2 separate regions of the Homo sapiens genome follow, and region 1 is linked to region 2. The links come from fine-mapping of genetic effects on gene expression. A gene starts in region 2. The other region holds a variant in brackets. All regions are shown on one strand. Distances are from middle to middle.

What was found. PIP is the estimated chance that this variant, and not a neighbour inherited with it, causes the effect.
Region 1: its variant is the best candidate, but not a certain one, in a credible set for the expression of SLC16A14 in nasal epithelium (TOPMed, PIP 0.73).

The regions. Positions count from the first base shown.
Region 1 is chr2:230,096,128-230,108,169 of GRCh38, forward strand. The region is part of intron 2 of LOC107985995 (a long non-coding RNA gene); the gene reads left to right. Among named protein-coding and RNA genes, the nearest start is that of SLC16A14, 33 kb to the left of the region's middle. The variant C/T (reference allele first, on the strand shown) is at 5,125.
Region 2 is chr2:230,063,653-230,075,694 of GRCh38, forward strand. It overlaps SLC16A14 (solute carrier family 16 member 14), which reads right to left and starts at 5,272. Exons shown (of 5, transcript NM_152527.5): 1 at 4,903-5,272. It overlaps LOC107985995 (a long non-coding RNA gene), which reads left to right and starts at 3,087. Exons shown (of 6, transcript XR_001739918.2): 1 at 3,087-3,125. RefSeq lists enhancers at 3,980-4,750, 5,146-5,265, 5,276-5,335 and silencers at 4,126-4,375, 4,646-4,915.

The sequences.
Region 1 (12,042 bases), 32 kb after region 2:
ACTCAGTTGACTATTTCTTTTGGTGTGCAGAAGCTTTTTAGTTTAATTAGATACCACTTGTCAATTTTTGGTGTTTTTTTTTTTGCAATTGCTTTTGAGATCTTAGTAATAAATTCTTTCCTAAGGCCCATGTCCAGAATGGTGCTTCGTAAATATTCTTCTAGGATTCTGATAGTTTGAAGTCTTACATTTAAATCTTTAATCCATCTTGAGTTAGTTATTATAAATGGTGAAAGGTAGGGGTCCAACTTCATTCTTCTGCATATGGCTAGCCTGTATCCCACCACCATTTATTGAATAGGGACTTCTTTTCCCATTGCTTATTTTTGTTGATTTTGTCAAAGATTAGATGGCTGTAGGTGTGTGGCTTTATTTCTGAGTTCTCTTTTCTGTTCCATTGGCCTATCTGTTTATTTTTGTACCAGTACCATGTTGTTTTGGTTACTGTAGCCTTATAGTATAGTTTGAAGTGGATTAATGTGATGCTTCTGGCTTTGTACATTTTGCTTAGAATTGCTTTGGTTATATAGGCTATTTTTTTGGTTCCATATGAATTTTAGAATAGTTTTTTCTAATTCTGTGAAAAATAACCTTGGTAGTTTGATAGAAATAGCATTGAATCTGTAGATTGCTTTGGGCAATAATAAGGCCATTTTAATGATACTGATTCTTGCAATCCATGAGCACGGAATATTTTCCATTTGTTTGTCTCATCTGTGATTTCTTTTAGCAGTGTTTTGTAGTTCTCCTTGTAAAGACCTTTCACTTCCTTGGTTAGATGTATTCCTGGGTATTCTATTTTTTTGTGTGGCTATTGTAATGGGATTGCTTTTTTTTTGGACAGTCTTACTCTGTCACCCAGACTGAAGTACAGTGGCATGATCTCTGCTCATTGCAACTCCTCCTCTAGGGTTCAAGTGATTCCCATGCCTTGGCCTCCTGAGTAGTTGGAATTACGGGCACGCACCACCACACCAGCTAATTTTCATATTTTTAGTAGAGACAGGCTTGTTTCAAACTCCTGACTTCAGGTGGTCTGCCCTCCTCAGCCTCGCAAAGTGCTGGGATTACAGGCATGAGCCACCGCGCGCAGCCGGGATTGCATTCTTGATTTGGCTCTTAGCTCCAGCTAATAACGTTTAAATGTTATTGCTGTAAAGAAATGCTACTGATTTTTGTACATTGATTTTTATATCCTGAAACTTTACTGAAGTCATTTATCAGTTCCAGGAGCTTTTTGGCAGAGTCTTTAGGCTTTTCAATGAATAGAATCCTATCATCTGCAAAGAAAGATAGTTTGAATTCTTCTTTTCATATTTGGATGCTTTTTATTTTTTTCTCATGGCTGATTGCCCTGGCAAGGACTTTCAGTACTATGATGAATAGGAGTGGTAAGAATCACCTTTAGAAGCACATAGTTCTCTGAAATTTGACGAATGTTTACAGTTGTGTAACCACCACCACATTGAAGATGTAGAACAATTTCCATCCAACCAAAAGAGTTCCCTTGTGCCCTTTTGTACCCAACAATTGCCGTCACTACTAACACCTGGCAACCACTCATATGAGTTCTGTCTAGAGTTTTGTTTTTCCAGAATGTCAGGTAAATGAAATTATACACTTGATATTCTTTTGTGTCTGGCTTCTTACAGTTGGTATAATGCCTTTGAGATTTACCTACGTTGCATGTGTTTGTGTGGATTACTATAGCATAACTGTTCCTTCTTACTACTGAGTAGTATTCCATTGTATGACTATATCACAAAGATTTGTTTATCCATTCATGGATTAATGGATATTTGGCTTGTTTCTGGTTTTTGACTTTTAGTGAATAATGCTGTTGTAAACATTTGTGTACAGGTTTGCGTGTGGACATATATTTTCATTTCTCTTGTGTCAATACCTAGGAATGCAATGTCCGGGTCATCTGTGGTAAGTGTATGTTTAACTTTCTAAGAAGCTGTCAAACTGTTTTCCAAACTAGTTATGCCATATTACATTGCCACCAGAAGTCTATGAACATTCCAGCTGATTCACATTTTGGCTAACATTTGATATTGCCATTTTCCCTCACAGTTTTAAACATTCTAATAGGTGTGTAGTGAGTGGTCTCTTATTGTAGTTTAATTTATATTTTCTTAATGATGTTGAGTGTTTTTTCCTGTGCTGATAGCATTTTTTCTAAACTTTTTTTGGTAAAATGTTCAAATTTTCTATGCTTTTGAAAATTGGATTGTTTTCTGATCATTGAGTTTTGAGAGTTTACTTATATTCTGGTTACCTTTCTTTGATCAGATCTATGATTTGAAAACATTTCCTCCCACTCTCTGGCTTATCTTTTCATTTTTCTTAATGTATTTCAAAGACCAGACAATTTAGAAGATCTGCTTTTTTTTAAAAAAAAAAAAGGAGATATAATTCACAGAACATAAAATTCATCCTTTCAAAGTGTACTATTTAGTTGTTTTTATCTATACACAAAGCAATGCAATCACCATTATCTAATTCCAGAACATTTTTGTCACTCCAAAAAGAAACATCATACCTATGAGCAGTCACTGCCTACTCTCCCCTCTCCCTAGATCCTGGCAACCACTAATTTTCCTTGTATTTCTATAGATTTGCCTGTTCTGGACATCTCATGTAAATAAAATCATATAATACGTGGCCTTTGTTTCTGGTTTCTGTTATAATGTGTTCAATGTTCATCCAATTGTAGCAGGTATCAGAACTTTATTCCTTTTTATAGCTCAGTAATATTCTATTGCATGGATATATTACATTTTGTTTATTCATTATTCATTTGAACATTTAGATCATGGCTATTATACATAATGCTGCTATGAACATTTGTGAACAAGCTTGTGGGTTTATTTGTTTTTGAGACCGAGCCTTGCTCTGTTGCCCAGGCTGGAATGCAGTGGTGTGATTTCGGCTCACAGCAACCTCTGCCTCCTGGGTTCAAGTGATTCTCCTGCCTCAGCCTCCTGAGTAGCTGGTATTACAGGCATGTGCCACCATGCCTGGCTAATTTTTGTATTTTTAGTAGAGATGGGGTTTCACCATGTTGGCCAGGCTGGCCTCAAACTCCTGACCTCAAGTGATCTGTCCACCTCAGCCTCCCAAAGTGCTGGGATTCCAGGTGTGAGCCATGCGCTGGGCTTATGTGCAAGTTTTTATGTGGATATATGTTTTTATTTCTTTTGACTATATACGTTGGAATCGAGTTGCTGGGTCACATAGTAATTCTTTGCTTAACTTTCTGAGGAACTTCCAGTACTATTTATTCTCTGTCCTTTTCATACTGCCTATCCTAGTGGATGTGAAGTGGTATCTCGTTGTGGTTTTAATTTGCATTTCCCTAGTGCTAGTGATTATGGACATCTTTTCATGTCTTCTTAGCCAAAAGCATATGTATGTTTTCCTCGGAGAAATGTCTATTCAAATCCTTTGTCCTTTTACAAAGCTGGGTTCTTTATATTATATATTTTTTTAAGAGATGAAGTCTTGCTGCATTGCCCAGGCTGGAGAGCGGTTTCACAATTTTAGCTCAGTGCAGCCTCAAACTCTTGTCTTTAAGTGAATCTTCTGCCTAAGCTTCCAGAGTAGCTGGGACTACAGGTGTGTGCCATCACGCCCAGCTCTTTTTATTGTTAAGTTGTAAGAGTTCAAAAAGCTGAAGTTTTAAATTTTGAAAGAAAATATACTTTTTTTACTCTGTGGTTTGAGCTTTTCGTTTGCTATATAAGCAACATTTGCCTAACCTAAGGTTGCAAAGACTTTTCTTTTTTCTTTCTTTCTTTCTTTTTTTTTTTTTTTTTGAGAGACAGAGTCTTGCTCTGTCACCCAGGCAGGAGTGCAGTGGTGCGATCTCAGCTCACTGCAACCTCTGCCTCCCAGGTTCAAGCCATTCTCCTGCCTCAGCTTCCCAAGTAGCTGGGACTACAGGTATGCACCACCACACCCAGCTAATTTTTGTATTTTTTAGTAGCAGTGGGGTTTCACTATATGTTGGCTAGGCTGGTCTCGAACTCCTGACTTCAGGTGATCTGCCTGCCTTGGCCTCCCAAAGTGCTGGGATTACAATCATGAGCCACCACCACACCAGGACTCTTTCCTTCTAGAAGTTGTTTAGTTGTTGGTTTTACATTTAGGTCTATGATCCATTTAAGTTGAATTTTGTATATGATTCAAGGTACAGGTCAAGATTTATTCTTTTTTTAAAATCAAATTTTTATTTTTGATTTTTGTGGGTACATGGGTGTATATATTTATGGGGGACATGACATATTTTGATACAAGCATCCAATGTTAATAATCACATCATGGAAAATGGGATTATCCAATTCTTCAAGCATTTATTTTTTGTGCTACAAACAACCCAAGTATACTCTTTTAGTTATTTTAAAATGTACCATTAAATTATTTTGACTATAGTCACCATGTTATGCTATCAAATATTAGGTATTATTCATGCTTTCTAACTATTTTTTTTGGTGACCATTAACCATCTCCACTTCCCCACCACTCCCCACTCCCCTTCCCCGCCTCTGGTAACCACCCTTCTACTGTCTGTTACCATGAGTTCAATTTTTTTGGATTTTTAGATCCCACAAATAAGTGAGAATATGCGATGTTTGTCTTTCCTTGCCCAGCTTATTTCACTTAACATAGTGACCTGAAGTTCCATCCATGTTGTTGCAACTGACAGAATCTTATTCTTTTTTATGGCCGAGTAGTATTCCACTGTGTGTAAGTACCACATTTTCTTTATCCATTCATCTGTTGATGGACACTTAGGTTGCTTCCAAATCTTGGCTATTGTGGACAGTACTGCAACAAACATGGGAGTGCAGATACCTCTTCAGTATACTGATTTCCTTTCTTTTGGTTATATACCCAGCAGTGGAATTGCTGGATCATATGGTAGCTATATTTTCAGTTTTTTGAGGAACCTCTAAATTGTTCTTCATAGTGGTTGTACTAATTTACATTCCCACCAACAGTGTATGAGAAAATCAATGTACTGATTTCCTTTCTTTTGGGTATATACCCAGCAGTGGAATTGCTGGATCATATGATAGCTATATTTTCAGTTTTTTGAGGAACCTCCAAATTGTTCTT[C/T]ATAGTGGTTGTACTAATTTACGTTCCCACCAACAGCGTATGAGGGTTTCCTTTTCTCCATATCCTTTCCAGAATTTGTTATTGCCTGTCTTGGATATAAGCCTTTTTTAAAAAAAAGTTAATGTAATTTTAGGTTCCAGGATATGTGTGCTGAACATGCAGGTTTGTTACATAGGTAAATGTGTGCCATGGTGGTTTGCTGCACCTATCAACCCATCACCTAGGTGTTAAGCCCCGCATACATTAGCTGTTAGTCCTGATGCTCTTCCTTCCCCTGGCCCCTTGACATGCCCCAGTGTGAGTTGTTCTCCTCCCTGTGTCCATGTGTTCTCATTGTTCAACTCCCACTTATAAGTGAGAACATGTGGTGTTTTGTTTTCTGTTCCTGTCTTAGTTTGCTGAGAATGATGGCTTCCAGCTTCATCCATATCCCTGCAAAGGACATGATCTCATTCCTTTTTATGGCTGCATAATCTTCCATGGTGTATATGTACCACATTTTCTTTATCCAGTCTATCATTGATGGGCATTTGGGTTGGTTCCAAGTCTTTGCTATTGTGAATAGTGCTGCAGTAAACATATGTGTGCATGTATCTTTATAATAGAATGATTTATATTCTTTTTGGTATATACCCAGTAATGAGATTGCTGGGTCAAATGGTATTTCTGGTTCTAGATCCTTGAGGAATCGCCACACTGTCTTCCACAGTGGTTGAACTAACTTACAATCTCACCAACAATAAAAAGGGCATTTCTATTTCTCCACAGCATTGTCAGTATCTGTTGTTTCTTGACTTTTTAATAATCGCCATTCTGACTGGCATGAGATGGCATCTCATTGTGGTTTTTATTTGCATTACTCTAATGATCAGTGATGTCCAGTTTTTCTTCATGTTTGTTGGCCACATGAATGTTTTCTTTTGAGAAGTGTCTGTTCATGTCCTTTGCCCATTTTTTGATGGGCTTGTTTTTTTCTTGTAAATTTTTTTAAGTTCCTTGTACATTCTGGATATTAGACCATTGTCAGATGGGTAGATTGTAAAAATGTTCTCCCATTCTGTAGGTTGTCTGTTTGCTCTGATGATAGTTTCTTTCGCTGTGTAGAAGCTCTTTAGTTTAATTAGATCCTATTTGTCAATTTTAGCTTTTGTTGCAATTGCTTTTGGTGATTTCATCATAAAATCTTTGCCCATGCCTATTCACTGAGTAGTAATGCCTAGATTTTTTTCTTGGGTTTTTATGGTTTTGGGTTTTACATTTAAGTCTTTAGTCCATCTTGAGTTAATTTTTGTATAAGGTGTAAGGAAGGGGTCCAGTTTCAGTTTTTTGCATATGGCTAGCCAGTTTTCCCAGCACCATTTATTAAATGGAGGACCTTTTGCCATTGCTTGTTTTTGTCAGGTTTGTTGAAGATCAGATGGTTATTTCTGAGATCTCTATTTTGTTTCATTGGTCTATGTGTCTGTTTTGATACCAGGATATAAGCCATTTTAATTGGGGTGAGATGATTCTCATTGTAGTTTTGATTTGCTTTTCTCTGATGATCAGTGATGTTGAGCACTGATTGTCATGTGTATGTCTTCTTTTGAGAAATGTCTATTCAAATATTTCACCCATTTTCGAATCAGGTTATTAGATTTTTTCCAATAGAGTTGTTTGAGTTCTTTATATATTCTGGTTATTTATCCAGATATTTTCTCCCATTTTGTAGGTTTGTCTTTTCACTTTGCAAATATTTTCCCTCGTTTTGTGGGCTGTCTTTTCACTTTGTTGATTGTTTTATTTGCTTTGCAGAAGTTTTTAAACTTGATGTGAACCCATCTGTCTGTTTTTGCTTTGGTTGCCTGTGCTTGTGAGGTATTGTTCAAAAAATTTTTCCAAGGCCAATATCCTAGAGATTTTTCCCAAAGTTTTCTTGCAGTAATTTTGTAGTTTGAGGTCTTAGATTTAAGTTCTTAATCCATTTTGATTTGGTTTTTGTATATGGTGAGAGGTAGGGGTCTAGTTTTATTCTTCTGCATATGGATATCCATTTTTCCCAGCACCATTTATTGAAGAGACTGTTTTTTCTCCAGTGTATGTTCTTGGTGCCTTTGTCAAAAATGAGTTCACTATAGGCATGTGGATTTGTTTCTGGGTTCTCTATTCTGTTCCATTTGTCTATGTGTCTATTTTTATGACAGTATCATGCTGTTCTGGTTACTATAGCTCTGTAGCATAATTTGAAGTCAGGTAATGTGATTCCTCTAATTTTGTTCTTTTTTTTTTTTAAATTCTCTACTTAACACCTCATTTCTGAGGAGCCTAAGTTGATTTTTTTTATTATTATACTTTAAGTTCTGGGATACACGTGCAGAACATGCAGGTTTGTTACCTAGGTATACAGGTGCCATGGTGGTTTGCTGTACCCATCAACCCGTCATCTACATTAGGTATTTCTCCTAATGTTATCTCTCCCCTTACCCTCCACCCCCTGACAGGCCCTGGTGTGTGATGGTCCCCTCCCTGTGTCCATGTGTTTTCATTGTTCAACTCCCACTTATGAGTGAGAACATGTGATGTTCAGTTTTCTATTCCTGTGTTAGTTTGCTGAGAATGATGGCTTCCAGCTGCATCCATGTCCCTGCAGAGGACATGAACTCACTCTTTTTTGTGGCTGCATAGTATTCCATGGTGTATATGTGCCACATTTTCTTTATCCAGTATATCATTGATGGACATTTGGGTTGGTACCAAGTCTTTGCTATTGTGAATAGTGCTTCAATAAACATACATGTGCATGTGTCTTTATAGTAGAATGATTTATAATCCTTTGGCTATGTACCTAATAATGGGACTGCTGGATCAAATGGTATTTCTGGTTCTAGATCCTTGAGAAATTGCCACACTGTCTTCCACAATGGTTGAACTAATTTACACTCCCAACAACAGTGTAAAAGTGTTCCTATTTCTCCACATCCTCTCCAGCATCTATTGTTCCCTGACTTTTTAATGATCACCCTTCTAACTGGCGTGAGATGATATCTCATTGTGGTTTTGATTTGCATTTCTCTAATGACCAGTGATGATGAGCTTTTTTTCATATGCTTGTTGGCTGCATAAATGTCTTCTTTTGAGAAGTGTCTGTTCATATCCTTCACCCACTTTTTGATGGGGTTGTTTGTTTTTTTCTTGTAAATTTGTTTAAGTTCCTTGTAGATTTTGGATATTAACCGTTTGTCAGATGGATAGATTGCAAAAATTTCCCCCCTTTCTCTAGGTTGCCTGTTCACTCTGATGATAGTTTCTTTTGCTGTGCAGAAGCTTTTTAGTTTAATTAGATCCCATTTGTCTATTTTGGCTTTTGTTGCCATTGCTTTTGGTGTTTTAGTCATGAAGTCTTTGCCCATGCCTATGTCCTGAATAGTATTGCCTAGATTTTCTTCTAGGGTTTTTATGGTTTTAGGTCTTACATTTAAGTCTTTAATCCATCTTGAGTTAATTTTTGGATGAGGTGTAAGGAAGGGGTCCAGTTTCAGTTTTCTGCATATGGCTAGCCAGTTTCCCCAACACCATTTATTAAATAAGGAATCCTTTCCCCATGAAGGTGAAAGGAGTATTATTAGGAGTACTGACTCACATGATCACAGATGAAGTCCCATAATAGGCCATCTACAAGCTGAGGAGCAGGGAAGCCCGTCCAAGTCCCAAAACCTCAAAAGTAGGGAAGCCAACAGTTCAGCCTTCAGTCTGTGGCCAAAGGCCTGAGAGACCCTGGCAAACCACTGATGTTAGTCCAAGAGTCCAAAAGCCGAAGAACTTGGAGTCTGATATTTGAGGACAGGAAGCATCCAGCATGGGGAAAAGATGAAGGCTTGAAGACTCAGCAAGTCAAGTCTTTTCCACACTCTTCTGCCTGGTTTATTCTAGCCACTCTGGCAGCTGATTACACGGTGACCACCCAGATTGAGGGTGGGTCTGCCTCTCCTAGTCCACTGACTCAAATGTTAATCTCCTTTGGCAACATCTTCACAGACACACCTAGGAACAATACTTTGCATCCTTCAATCCAGTCAAGTTGACACTCAATATTAAGTGTCACATAGGCGCTTATAGCTATACATTTCCCTCTTAGTACTGCTTTCATTGTAGCCCATAGGTTTTGGTATGTTGTGCTGCCATTGTCCTTCATTTAGAAAATTTTTCAATTTTCTTGTTAATTTCATTGACTCACTGGTCATTCAGGAACATATTGCTTACTTTCCATGTGTTTATATAGTTTCAAAAATTCCTGTTGTTGTTCACTTCTCGTTTTATGAGAAATTCTGTATCAAGATAAGATACTTGATATTATTCCCATTTTTTGAATGTTTTAAGACTTGTTTTGTGCCCTAACATCTGTTCTATCCTTGAGAATGATCCATGTACTAAAGAGAAGAATGTGTATTCTGCAGCTGTTGGATAAAATGTTCTGTAAATATCTATTAGGTCCATTTGGTCTACAGTGCAGATGACATCCAATGTTTCTTTGTTGAGTTTCTGTGTGAAAGATCTGTCCAAAGCTGAAAGTGGGGTGTTGAAGTCTCCAGCTATTATTATATTAAGATCTGTCTCTCTCTTTAGCTCTATATGCTAAAGAGAGCATACAGAGTTCTGTTCATATATTTGCTTTATATAAAGCAATATGTAAATATTTGCTTTATATAAAGCAATATGTAAATATTTGCTTTATATAAAGCAATATGTAAATATTTGCTTTATATAAAGCAATATGTAAATATTTGCTTTATATGTCTGAGTGCCTCAGTGTTGGGTGCATATATTTACAATTGTTATATCCTGTAGCTAGACTGACCCCTTTATCATTACAAATGACCTTTTTTTGTCTCTTCTTACAGTTTTTGTCTTGAAATCTATTTTGTCTGATATAGATATAGCTGCCCCTGCTCTTTTTTGGTTTCCATTGGCATGGAATATCTTTTTACATACCTTTATTTTCAGTCTATGTGTATCTTTATAGGTGAAATGTGTTTCTTGTAGGCAACAGATCAATGGGTCTTGTTTTTTAAATCCATCCACCCACTTATGTCTTTTGATTAGAGAGTTTAGTCCATTTACATTCAATGTTATTATTGACAACTAGGGGCTTACTCCTGCCATTTTGTGATTTGTTTTCTGATTGTTTTGTGGTCTCCTTTTTCTTCTTTCCTTCCTTCATGTCTTCTTTTTAGTGAAGGTGATTTTCTCTGGTAGTATGATTTAGTTTCTTGCTTTTTGTTTTTTGCGCATCCACTGTTTGTATACTTTTTCTTTTAAAGTTACCATGAGGCTTGCAAATACTATTTTATAACCCACTATTTTAAACAGATGGCAACTTAACACTGATTACATAAAAAAACCAACCAAACAAACACACAAAAAGAAAACTAATACAAACTCTACAATTTAATTTCATTTTCCTGCTTTTTAACTTTTTGTTGTTTCTCTTTATGTCTTATTTTACTGTCTATGTCTTGAAAAGTTACTGTAATTATTATTCTTGATTGGGTCATCATTTAGTCTTTCTACTTAAGATAAGAGTAGTTTACACACCACAACTACAATGTTATAATAGTCTGTGTTTTTCTATGTCCTTACTATTACCAGTGAGTTTTGTTCCTTCAGATGATTTCTTTTCGCTCATTAACATCCTTTTCTGATTGAAGAACTTCCTTTAGCCTTTCTTGTAGGACAGGTTTGGTGGTGATGAAATTCCTCAGCTTTTGTTTGTCTGGGAAGGTCTTTATTTCTCCTTCATGCTTGAAGGATATTTTCATCAGATATAATATTCTAAGATAAAAGTTTTTTTTTCCCTTCAGCACTTTGAGTATGTCATGTCACTCTCTTCTGGCCTGTAAGGTTTCCATTGAAAAGTCTGCTGCCAGATGTATTGGAACTCCATTACATGTTATTTGTTTCTTTTCTCTTGCTGCTTTTAGAATCCTTCCTTTATCCTTGACCTTTGAGAGTTTCATTATTGAATGCCTTGAGGTAATCTTTGAGTTACATCAGCTTGCTGTTGTATAACTTTGTTGTACTTGAATTTTGATTTCTTTCTCTAGGTTTGGGAAATTCTCTGATATCCTTTTGAATAAACTTCCTATCCCTTTCTTCCTCCTCTTTTAAGGCCAAAAACTCTTTTTTTTTTTCTTTTTGAGGTGGAGTCTTGCTCTGTCACCCAAGCTGGTATGGAGTGGCACAATCTCAGCTCATTGCAACCTCTGCCTCTCAGGTTCAAGCTATTCTCCTGCCTCAGCCTCCCGAGTAGCTGGGATTATAGGTGTGCGCCACAACACCTGGCTAATTTTTGTATTTTTAGTAGAGATGGGGTTTCACCACATTGGCCAGGCTGGTCTTAAACTCATGACCTCAAGTGATCCACCTGCTTCGGCCTCTTAAAGTGCTGGGATTACAGGCGTGAGCCACTGTGCTTGGCAGGCAAAAAACTCTTAGATTTGCCATTTTGAGGCTATTTCCTAGATCTTTTAGGGTGCTTTATTCTTTTTTCTTTTGTCTCCTCTGACTGTGTATTTTCCAATAGTCTGTCTTCAAGCTCAGTAATTCTTCTGCTTGATCACCTCTGCTATAAAAGTCTCTGATGCATTCTTCTGTATGCCAATCGCATTTTTCAACTCCAGAATTTCTGCTTGATTCTTTTTAATTATTTTAATCTCTTTGTTAAATTTATCTGATGGAATTCTGAATCCCTTCTCTTTGTTATCTTCAATTTTTTTTTTTCAGTTTTCTCTAAACAACTATTTTAAATTCTCTGTCTGAAAGGTCTCATATCTTTTGTTACTCCAGGATTGGTCCCTGGTGCTCTGTTTAGTTCATTTGGTGAGGTCATGTTTTCCTGGATGGTGTTGATGCTGTCAGATGTTCTTTGGTATCCAGGCATTG
Region 2 (12,042 bases):
ATATGTAATAATCTCTTTGTTATTTCTACTAAGACATGTATCCATAGGAAAAAAGACTGGAGCAAAACAAAGAAAAATGTTGATGGAGATTATTCTTTGAATGATGGTCTTACCAGTAATTTCCCGCTTCTTTCTACTATCTTAGTGGTGAGAAATTTCCTCAATATGCCAGGTGTGGTGGCTCATGCCTGTAATCCCAGCAATCTGGGAGGCTGAGGTAGGAGGATTACTTGAGCTCAGGAGTTTAAGACCAGCCTGGACAACAGTGAGACCTCATCTCCGTAAATAAAAATTAGCCAGGCACATGTGGTGGCGCATACTTGTGGTCCCAGCTACCTGGAGGCAGAGGTGGGAGAATTGCTTGAGCCTGGGAGGTTCAGGCTGCAGTGAGTTGTGATCATGCCACTGCACTCCAGCCTGGGAGACAAAGTGAGACCCTGTCTCAAAAAAAAAAAAAAAGTTCCTCAATAGATATATATTACCTGTATTATAAGAAAATAAAAGCTACCTTTAAAATATTGTCTGGATCAGCCTCTTACCTCCAGGTAAATTAGTGGCTGACTTGTAAAAGAGAAAACAAAACAAGATGACCTCTATTGGGAAGTCTTCCAGTATGTCTTGGGTTTCAGCCTTGTCTGTGTGTGTGTGTGTGTGTGTGTGTATGTGTGTGTGTGTGTGTCTGTGTATGCATGTATCTGTCCCCTTCCCAATGTCTGAGCCTGCTTGGGGCTAGAAAGGGATGGGGCAGCCCTTGCTCTCCAAAGCTTACAGCGCAGTGCAGAGCTGCATTGTCAAAGGGCCAGTGGATGAGCCCAGAGAGGGTTCAGAAGGGATGGTTGGTGAGTGTCTTCCCTCTGCCTCTGTTGTGTGCAGAATCCTGAGGAGCCAGAAACAGGAGAACCAGGCAGCTTGACACAAGGTGTGAATAGCTCATAAAAATGTCATTTTGCTGTCCATGGGAAAATGCTCAGCTATGTTTAATGTGATGAAACAACAATACATGGCATTTTCCTGAAGTTCATTTACAACCAAGGAAGGCTTTGAAGTAATACAAATTTAAAAGTTAGAGTTTTTTAGGCCGGGCGTGGTGGCTTATGCCTGTAATCCCAGCACTTTGGGAGGCCGAGGTAGGCGGATCACCTGAGGTCGGGAGTGTGAGACCAGCCTGACCAACATGGAGAAACCCTGTCTCTACTAAAACTACAAAATTAGCCGGGTGTGGTGGCGCATGCCTGTAATCCCAGCTACTCGGGAGGCTGAAGCAGGAGAATCTCTTGCACCTGGGAAGCAGAGGTTGCAGTGAGCCGAGATCGCACCATTGCACTCCAGCCTGGGCAACAAGAGTGAAACTCCATCTCAAAACAAACAAACAACAACAGGAAAAAGTTATAGTTTTTCAGCCCGTGTGTTGAAATATTAAGCACTTTTCTAAATCAATGATAAGAACTTTATATTCTTACTGAATTATTTATGGGTGAAGAGATGTAGGTGCCAACAAACTGCTCTTGATATTTCCAGTTTGTTCATAAATAAGTGACACTGAATAGCATTTAATGGACAAATTTTATTCATGAGGCACAAGGGTGCATGTAGAATATAGTAAAAAAGTTCTTTTTTTTTTTGAGATGGAGTCTTACTCTGTTGTCCAGGCTGGAGTGCAGTGGCATGATCTCGGCTCATTGCAACCTCTACCTTCCAGGTTTAAGCGATTCTCCTGTCTCAGCCTCCTGAGTAGCTGGGACTTCAGGTGTGCACCACCATGCCAGATAATTTTTGTATTTTTGTAGAGATGGAGTTTCACCATGTTGGTCAGGCGGGTCTGGAACTCCTAACCTCAAGTGATCCACCTGCCTTGGCCTCTCAAAGTGCTGGGATTACAGGCGTGAGCCAGCATGCCTGGCCCAAAAAGTTCTTTTGGATCCTCAGGAGGCCCCTATAGATCTGCTGAGCAATGGAGTCAGTTGTATTTCACACTTAAATCTCTCCAAAAGTAATTACTGTTTTGACTACTCATGGTTAACTTCTAGACCAACTAGTTAATGAAAACAAAAGACAACAGAAAAACAAATGTTTATCCCTCCAACTCCAAGATTGCTTGTAGCATTCATATAATTATATACATGTATAATTATATATGTATTTATATAAGATATAAGAATAATTTTAGTATTATAATCCTACTCCACACCTGGAGAGGGAGAACTTAGAGGGTGTATCTGTACCCCTAGGCTCCATGTCTTTGACCACCATAGGGCCTTCAAGCTCCCTTACATTTTCTACATCCTGACATACATGTAAAATGACGATATGCATGTGGCACCCTGAGGCAGTGAATGTGGGGCTTCTGCTAAGGATTAATATGTAAAATGTGGCAGAACACGGTGGCTCATGCCTGTAATCCCAGCACTTTGGGAGGCTGAGGGGGATGGATCACTTGAGGTCGGGAGTCTGAGACCAGCCTGGCCAACATGGTGAAATCCCTTCTCTGCTAAAAATACAAAAATTAGCCAGTGTGGTGGTGCGCACCTATACTCACAGCTATGCAGGAGGCTGAGGCAGCAGAATTGCTTGAACCTGGGAGATGGAGGTTGCAGTGAGCTGAGATGGTGCCACTGCACTCTAGCCTGGATGATAGAACGAGACTACCTCAAGAAAAAAAAAAAGTAAAAGGTAACCCACTCTAAGCAAGCTTGCTATTGGAAGCTTGACAAAAAATATTAGGGCTTCGTTATGAAGAGGGTGAAATAAGAAAATGGGAAGATTACGGGAGCAATAGTCAGCCTTCCATTCTCCCCAAATGAGTTCATAGACGATGAAAAAGAAATTGTAAATGGGGGGTAACATATATAGGCTATGAAACTGGGTCAGCTACATATTTACGTGATAATAGGCAGAAATGAAAATAACAGATCCTTCTAGGGTGTTTCAGATATTAGAACAAAATTAAATTTTCTACAGCAGCGTAGAAAGTTTTACAAGCAAGTCATTTTTTTTTTTTTTTTGACAGAGTATGGCTTTGTCGCCCAGGCTGGAGTGCACTGGTGAGATCTCGGCTCACTGCAACTTCCGCCTCCCGAGTTCAAGCGATTCTCCTGCCTCAGCCTCCCGAGTAGCTGGGACTACAGGTGTGTGCCACTGCATCTTTAGTATCTTTAGTAGAGAAGGGGTTTCGCCATGTTAGCCAGGCTGGTCTCGAAACTCTGACCTCAGATGATCCACCCGCCTCGGCCTCCCAAAATGCTGGGATTACAGGCATGAGCCACCGCGCTGGGCCAAGTCATTCATTTTTAATTTGGCTATTGTTATTACATTGCATGTGGTGAGCTCATTACACATAAGGAAAGCGGGAAGCACGAAGCTAAAATTGAAATTACAGTCTTCCCCAAAGCTACGCAGAGCGTGGTGGTAGCGGCTCTGCATCCCACGCAGGTGAGTGCGGGCTTCACCTTTAATTCTGCTCTGCAGGCGCTTCCGCGCTCTTCACCTGGTGTGTACAGGGCATTTGGGGCCTTTAGAGGGCGCACTTGCGGCCAGCAGGCTGAAGAGGCTGCCGCGGAGAAGGCTGGGGAGCGGAGCTGAGCTGAGCTGGTGCAGACAGCATAGGAGAAAAACAGAACCGAAAAATTCACACCGAATTAGGAGGACTCAACACATACATGCTTCGCTCTGGGTCAGGGACTGTGCTTGGTGGCTTCTCCTCCAGTCCAATTGGCATGAATGTCCGCATTTTACAGAGGAAGAATCTGAGCCATCAAATGGGAGCAATGAAGCTTAGAAAGGTTAAACTAGCAGGCTGTGGAAACCAAATCGGAACCCAGGCCTGCAGGATCCCAAGCCTGTTTTACCTCCTCCCACCCCCAACACTGCCTCTCTCCCCTCTCTTCTCTCTCTCTCTCTCTCTCTCTCTCTCTCTCTCTCTCACACACACACACACAGCCGCACACGCACGCACATGCAAACAAAGAAGCCAGACAAGGCAAAGGAGAATCTCTCTAAGCCCCAATAATGGCCCTCAGTCATCCTTGTTAATGAGCCCGAATCAACTTTTCCTCAGAAAGAAAATGGCTTAATTGGAAAGCAGAGTTCAGCTCCTAAAACATCGTCATGGCCTTGGCAGCGTTTAGCCCCGAAATGGCCGTCCCCGGTCTCTCACCCCATTTCAGCCTCTCTTGAGGAGCCTCAATCGGAAGCGCTAAGGGGGCCCAGCCTCTGCGCGCCCTGGGTGCGGGATCGTGCCCGCGGGGTCCGGCCTCGCGCCCCACCCTTCGAGCGCCCGCCCCCACCCGCGCTCGGTGCTCCCGCTCCCTTGGCACCCCGAGACCACATCCCCACTTCGGGCACCCCGCATCCCTCGGCGCGTTCGGAAGCCAGCAGCCCACCGGGGAAGCTGGGCCGGCTGCAGCACCACAGCCTGTGCAGAGAGGCATCCGCACCCCGCGAAGTCCCTAGGCGCAGCCCCGGGTCCCCCGCTCTGCGCCTCATCACTGTCCAGTTCGAGTCCCAAACGGGCCTAGAGAGCAGCCGGGCAGCGAGGCTGGGCTCCGGGCAGAACGCGCTTCTCCAGCCGGACGGGGGTGCCCAGGATGACGCTCGCGGGGCCCCGGCCAGCTTGAGCAGCAAGGCGCGCGTCCCCAAGCTCCGCCTGGCGGTCTGCCCTGAACCGCCGGTTACCCTGCCCGCCCGCAGCTCCCAAGCCCCCGCGGCGGCCTTGGCACTACCACCTGCCCCGGCACAGTCTCGCCCTCCACCGCCCGGGCAGCCTTTCCCGAGCCTGCCTTGGGCTGGGGCTGCCCCTTCCCGGGGGTCCCTGGGGGTGCAGCGGCCATCTGAAACCTAGGCTCCGATGCCCCCGGCGTCGCTCCATTCCCCAGGCCCGCGGCGCGCGCGGCCTCGGATACTCACCGCCCGAGGCCCGCTGGGCTGCGGCCTCACTCGGCTCCACGCCCGGATCCTCGAACTTGCTGCTCTGCTTGGAGCCCCCTGAGCTGCTGGGTGTAGAGATTTGTTGCAATGTCGCCTATCATCCTGGAGACGCGGGTGCCTGCGGCTCAGCTCTCCGCCCGGCTCGGTGCGCTCTGTGAGGGGCTCCCGGGCTCTTCCGCCGCTCGCTGCCAGGCCAGGTGAGCGTTTGGTGGAGCTGAAAGCTCGACGCCTCAGTCCAGGTGGCTTTAAAACGGGTGCGTTTGGAGGTGCCCAAACCTAACCTGGGCTTCCTTCCAATCGGAGCAATTTCAAATCTTCATGCTCGTTCATTCCTATACCGGCTAATTCTGGTTTGGCAGGGAAAAAAAATGCAGTCACCTCACATGCACACTCTTGTGGCCGGTTGAAGTTTATAGCTTTGGCTGAGGTTCCGCTAAGGCGCTGCACATTTATCACTGGCGGAAAGGTCCTGAAATCTAATCCAGGATGCAAGTGAGACTAGCAGTAGCCTCCATTTCTCTGAGATGGGAGAGAAGGGATGAAACAGACCCTCACTGAAATATTTTTGGCCAAAGAGGACTCAAAGTCCCTTATTCTCTCTCTTTTAGAGACACGGGTTTCACTATATTGCCAGGCTGGTCTCGAACACTTGGACTCAAGGAATCCTCTGGCCTTGGCCTCCAAAGTGCTGGGATCACAAGCTGAGCCACCGTGACCGGCCAGTCCCTCATTCTTGTTTCCACCCTGGGTCCCACCTCTCCCTGCTCTTTCTGCACGTCCATTACCTACCTTCGTGGGCACCAGGCACAACTTTCATCTCAATACCTCCCTACCTCATTCCCAGCAGGGCACACAACATAGTGCTTTGCCTTGGACAGTTTTCTGTATTATTGAAGTGAATGTGTGAGTCGATGAAGCCTGTGCTGTTTTTTCCCGCCTGAAGGTTTTGCAGTAATTCTCTGCTGCTGTTGTGATAAACTGCCACAGTAATAGCAGAGGAAAACCACACAAATTCACTATTTTACAGTTCTGGAGGTCGGAAGTTTGAAATGGGTCATACTAGGCTGAGATCATGGTGTTGGCCACCTTGAAGGCTGTGTTCCTTCTCGTGGCTGTAGGGGAGAGCCACCAGCTTCTGCAGGCCGCCCACATTCCTTGGCTGGTGGCTCTTCCTCCATCTTCAAAGCCAGCACTGCTGCGTCATTTTGTCTTCTTTCCATACTCACATTGCCTTGTCTCCCCTTTTCTGCCCCCACCCCTGTCCACTTTTAAGGACCCTGGGGATTACATTGAGTCCAATGAGATAATCCAGATAATCTCTCTATTTTAAGGTCAGCTGATTAGCAACCTTAATTCCATCTGCAACCTTAATTCCCCTCTTGCCATGTAAGGTAACAAATTCACATGTTCCAGGGATTAGGATGTGGACATCTTTGGGAGACCATTATTCTGCCTACCACAGATTTCCTTCTTTCTTCTTTTCCTTTTTCTTTTCTTCCTTCTTTTTCGTTTCTTTGAAAAAAAATTCACATGTATTTCACATTGCCTTCCTCGGTCACCCAAGCTGGAGTGCAGTAGCATGATCACAGCTCATTGCAGCCTCAACCTCCTGGGCTCAGGTGATCCTCCCACCTCAGCCTCCTGAGTAGCTGGGACTACAGGCACACGCCACCATGCCTGGCTAATTTTTTTGACTTTTTATAGAGACGGAGTCTCATTATATTGCCCAGACTGGTCTTGACCTTTTGGACTCAAGTGATCTGGCTGCCTCACCCTCCCAAAGTGCTGGGATTACAGGCATGAGCCGCTGCACCCGGCCTATATTGCTATTTCTTATATCAATTCTGTCTCTCTTTTTTTTTTTTTTTTTTTTTGAGATGGAATCTCACTCTGTCACCCAGGCTAGAGTGCAGTGGCAATCTTGGCTCACTACAACATCTGCTTCCCAGGTTCAAGCAATTCTCCTGCCTCAGCATCCCAAGTAGCTGGGGTTATAGGAGCGTGCCACCATGCCCAGCTAATCTTATATCAACTCTTGATTTAAAAATTATTGAGGCTGGGCACAGTGGCTCACGCCTGTAATCCCAGCACTTTGGAAGGCCAAGGCGGGTGGATCACTTGAGGCTAGGAGTTCAAGACCAGCTTGGCCAACATGGTGAAACCCCGTCTCTACTAAAAACACAAAAATTAGCTGGGTGTGGTGGCGCCTGCCTGTAATTCCAGCTGCTTGGGAGGCTGAGGCACGATATTGCTTGAATCTGGGAGGCGAGAATCGCTTGAACCTTGAGCTGAGATCGTGCCTCTGCATTCCAGCCTAGGCAACAGAGTGAGACTCTGTCTCAAAAAAAAAAAAGAAAAAAAAATTTTGAGAAAATTGTGAGAAATTGTGGCCAAGTGAGGGCATTTTGATGAGGTGCTAGGCTTCAGTGGTTTACATATCTTACTTTTGCTGATAAGAACACGGGCAACTGGATGGTTAGTGTTCCCTTGGGCGGTGCCTCTCATATCCACTCATTTCAAGCAGGCTTTTGACAGCAAGATTAGGGTTCCTGACAAGCACTTCAATTGCCGATGATCCATTTTGTTGGAAAAGAAGTCTGTAAGATTTTTAAGTCTGTTTTTTTTTTCTCTGAAAACTTGCCCACTTATGGAGGTATGATGGATCTCATATGAACTGTGCATATTTAGTGTCCAATTTGATGAGTTTCAGCATATGGAGGTAGGATGGATCTCGTATGAACTATGCATATTTAGTGTACAATTCGATGAGTTACAGCACGTCTATGGAACTACCACCTCAATCAAATGACTCCAAAATTTTCCTTGTGCTGCTTTGTAATCCTTGTCCCACCTCCACACACCCAGGCAGTCTTTAATTGGCTCTCTGAGAAGCTTCTACTCTGGACCATGAAGGCTTTTCTGATCAATTATTTTGTCTTCATAAGTTTCACTGCTCTTACCTGTCTGTTGGTCTCTCAGTGACACAGGTGGATTGAGGACAGGCCCAAAGCAAAGAGGACTGTGACCCATAAGTTGGTATGTCTGGGTTAAATAAATAGAAATCCACTATCAGGCCAGGCGCAGTGGCTCATGCCTGTAATCCCAGCACTTTGGGAGTCCGAGGTGGGCGGATCGCCTGAGGTCGGGAGCTTGAGACCAGCCTGGCCAACACGGTGAAAACCCATTTCTACTAAAAATACAAAAATTAGCAGGGCGTAGTGGTGGGTGCCTGTAATCCCAGCTACTCAGGAGGTTGAGGCAGGAGAATTGCTTGAACCCAGGAGACGGAGGTTGAAGTGAGACAAGATAGCGCCATTGCACTCCAGCCTGGGTGACACAGCGACACTCTGTCTCAAAAAAAAAAAAAATCCATCTTCAATTAGAATGTAAAATATAAGCGCTAAACTCTTTTCATGTATCTGAAGTAGAGAAACCTGACATTCTCCCTTGATTTTTAGGCAAATTATATATTTTCTCTCAATAGCAATCTTACCTTTAATTGAATTGCATTAGCTAACAACCTTACATCTTAAGAATGTAAACTAATTCACATGCTGCCTGTAAAAGCCTCCTCTCTTAGTTCTAATCATGTACTCAATTGATTTCATAATCCCACCTTGGAGTTGGGGTGAAACTGAGAATTTGGACAATCTTTGCCTTAATTTTGGTGGTTTAATGGTGTAGAATAGGCACAGAGTGGGATAGAATTAGCTTTTGAGAAAGTTGCTAGCACAGAACATTGAAGGGGTTAGAGAAATGCCTTAAAGTGTCACCGTGACTGCCTCATTGTTGTAGCCAGCCCAGATGTAAAGATGACCCACAACCCACATGGTCACCAAGAATATCCTCTGTCTCTCAGTATGGCCCTGTTCCCCACTCCTCTGAGTTTAATGTGGGAGATCAAAGACTAGAATCCAGAACACAAGTGCCTGAAATGCAAGTGTGCTCAGAAATCACAGGGCAAGCCACACGCTGCACAGCCAGGCAAAGTTTTATGAAGGAGGAAGGAAATGCTTTCTCTTACACAGGGCCAGAAATCCAGTGCTGTGCCCAAATCCGTGCCACCTCTTGGCTTGGTGGGTCAGTCTGTGCCCCCCCAGGATTCTCCCTGTGACTGGATTTATCTTTCCGTAAGTGCAGATGCTTTTACCAAGTGGGGACCTTGGTTACATCTGGTCTTGGCAGGTATCTTCAGTCTTGGCCTGCTGCCAAACCAGCCTCCAGGGATTTTGGACTTCAGCATGGCTTATGGGGACAGAAGGAGGTTGCAGGGCTGATAGCAGCCTTCAGCAGCCTGGAGTCTCATAAGAACCACCACACTGAGATGACATTGGTCATGGCTTCTGGGTGCCTCATAAATTTCAGATTTCAGCAAGGCCTCATTTTTATGCTTTATCCATGAACCATATGTGCTAGTAGTTACTTTTCAGCTATTCATTTATTTTTTCATTCAACAAATATTTGCTGAACGTGTATGATGTGATTTTATGAAGTGCTGGGGATACAGCAATGAACAAAACCAACACAAATGCTTTTCTGCACTAAGTATATGTTCCAGTGAGCAAGAAAAACAAGTTATATATATGTAATGCATATATGTGTATGTGTATTTATTTCTCTCTCTATATATATGTATATATATACATACATATATATACAATTAGTAATAAGCACTAAGAAAAAAATTAGGCAAGGACAGGGAAATTGAAGGGTTATTGTGATGGGAAACTTTAGAAGGGAGAGAGAAAGCATCAATAAGAAGTGCTGGAATGAGCCATGAGAATGACAGGAGGAAGCTCATCCTAGCAGGAAGAGTAGCAGGTACAAAGTCCACAAGGCAGAGGGAAGTGTCTGTAGGTCACCCTAAAGCCTTGAAAATCACAGGAAAAAAACTGGCTTTTATTCAGAGACAGGAAGCCACTGGAGAGTTGAGCAGGGGGGGCTGGGCATGGTGCCTCACGCTTGTAATCCCAGTACTTTGGGAGGCTGAGGTAGGTGGATCACTTGAAGCCAGGAGTTTGAGACCAGCCTGGCCCACATGATGAAACCCTGTCTCTACTAAAAATACAAAAGTTAGCTGGGCGTGGCCGTGCATGCCTGTAATCCCGCTACTTGGGAGGCTGACTACAATAATCCAAGGGAGAGACAATGGCTACTGGGACCATAGAAGTGGCAATGAAGGTTGTAAAACAAAATTGGATCTGAATATACTTTGGAGGCAGAGTTGTAGGATTTGCTTTCAGATTGAATGTGTGAGAGAAAGAGGAGTCAAGGATGACTCCAAGGTTTTGGCTAAGTGATTGGAAGAATGGAGCTGACATTAACAAAGATGGGAAGACTGCAGGAGGAGCTTGTTTGGGGGAGATATTAGGAGTTCAGATTTGGACCTGTTACTATTTTAATATGGCATACATAGTTACTCTTTTAATAGTTACTACTTTTAATAGTTACATGGGATACATAGTTACATGGGATACATAATTACTATTTTAATGTGGCATACATAGTAGTCATACAATGGAATATTATACAGCAATCAAAAGGATCAACTCCATTAATACACCATATGTTTGAATCTTAGAAATTACATATTAAGCAGAAAAAAGCATAATACTCTTTATGCAAAATTACAAAACTTAAACCAAATATTTTTGGAATGCATCTAGGTGCAGTGCAACTATCCAAAAAGAGAAGCAAGGAAAGATGAACATGGGACTTAGGTCAGGGATGACAGGGAGAAGGGATGGGTATGATTAGATGTGCCTTGTTGTGCTGGCTTCGTGGACACTTATTTAATTATTAAAATCAATTAACTTAGCCAGGCATAGTGGCTCACCCCTGTAATCCCAGCACTGTGGGAGGCTAAGGCAGGGTGACTGCTTGAGGGCAGGAGTTCAATATCTGCCTGGGCAACCTCAATAGTGAGGCCCCATCTCTACAAAATAAAAATTAAAAATAACAGCTGGGTGTGGTGGCATGCACCTGTAGTCCCAGCTACTCAGGAGGCTGAGGTGGGAGGATTGCTTAAGCGCAGGAGTTTGAGGTTACAGTGAACTATGATGGTGCCACTGCACTCCAGCCTTGGTAACCAAGCAAGACCTTGTCTTTAAAATAAATAAATAAATAAATAAAAATAATGAGCTCACTATGACCAAGTGGGACTTATCCCAGGAATGCAAGGTTGGTATGTATTTGAAAATCAGTTAATGTGATAGATAGTATCAATAGAATAAAGGATGAGGTGTGGGCCTATAGTCCTAGTGACTCAGGAGGATGGGGTGGGAGGACTGCTTGGGGCTACAGTGAGCTTTGATCCCACCACTGCACTCTAGCCTGTGCAAAAGAGCAAGATCTAAAACAACAACAACAACAACAACAAAACAACAAAATGAAAAACAGCCCGGTGCGGTGGCTCACGCCTATAATCCCATCACTTTGGGAGGCCAAGGCAGGTGGATCACTTGAGGTCAGGGGTTCAAGGCCAGCCTGGCCAACATGGTGAAACCTTTTCTGTACTAAAAATACAAAAAGTATCTGGGCGGGTGTGGTTGCACGTGCCTGTAGTCCCAGCTACTCAAGAGGCTGAGGCAGGAGAATCGCTTCAACCCAGGAAGCGGAGGTTGCAGTGAACTGAGATCATGCCACTGCACTCCAGCCTGGGCGATAGAGCGAGACTCTTTCTCAAAAATAAACAAATAAATAAATAAATAAATAAACATTTTAAAAAAGGAAAAAATCAAAATAACATGATCATCTTAATATATACAGAATAAGTATTTGACAAAATACAACACCCTTTCATGACTAAAAAAAACACACAACAGACTAGCAATTGAAGGGTACTTCCTCAACCTGATAAAAGGCATCTACAAAAACTCACAGCTAACATCATACTTGATGGTGAAAGATTGAATGCTTTCCCCTAAAGATCAGGAACAAGATAAGGATATCCACTTTTGACATTCCTATTCAATATAGTACTAGAGATTCTAACCAGGGGAATTAGGCAATAAATAAATAAAAGATTAAAAATTAAAAAAAGAAATAAAGGGCATCCAGAATAGAAAGAAGAAAATAAAATTACCTCTATTTTCAGATATATGATTTATATACAGAAAA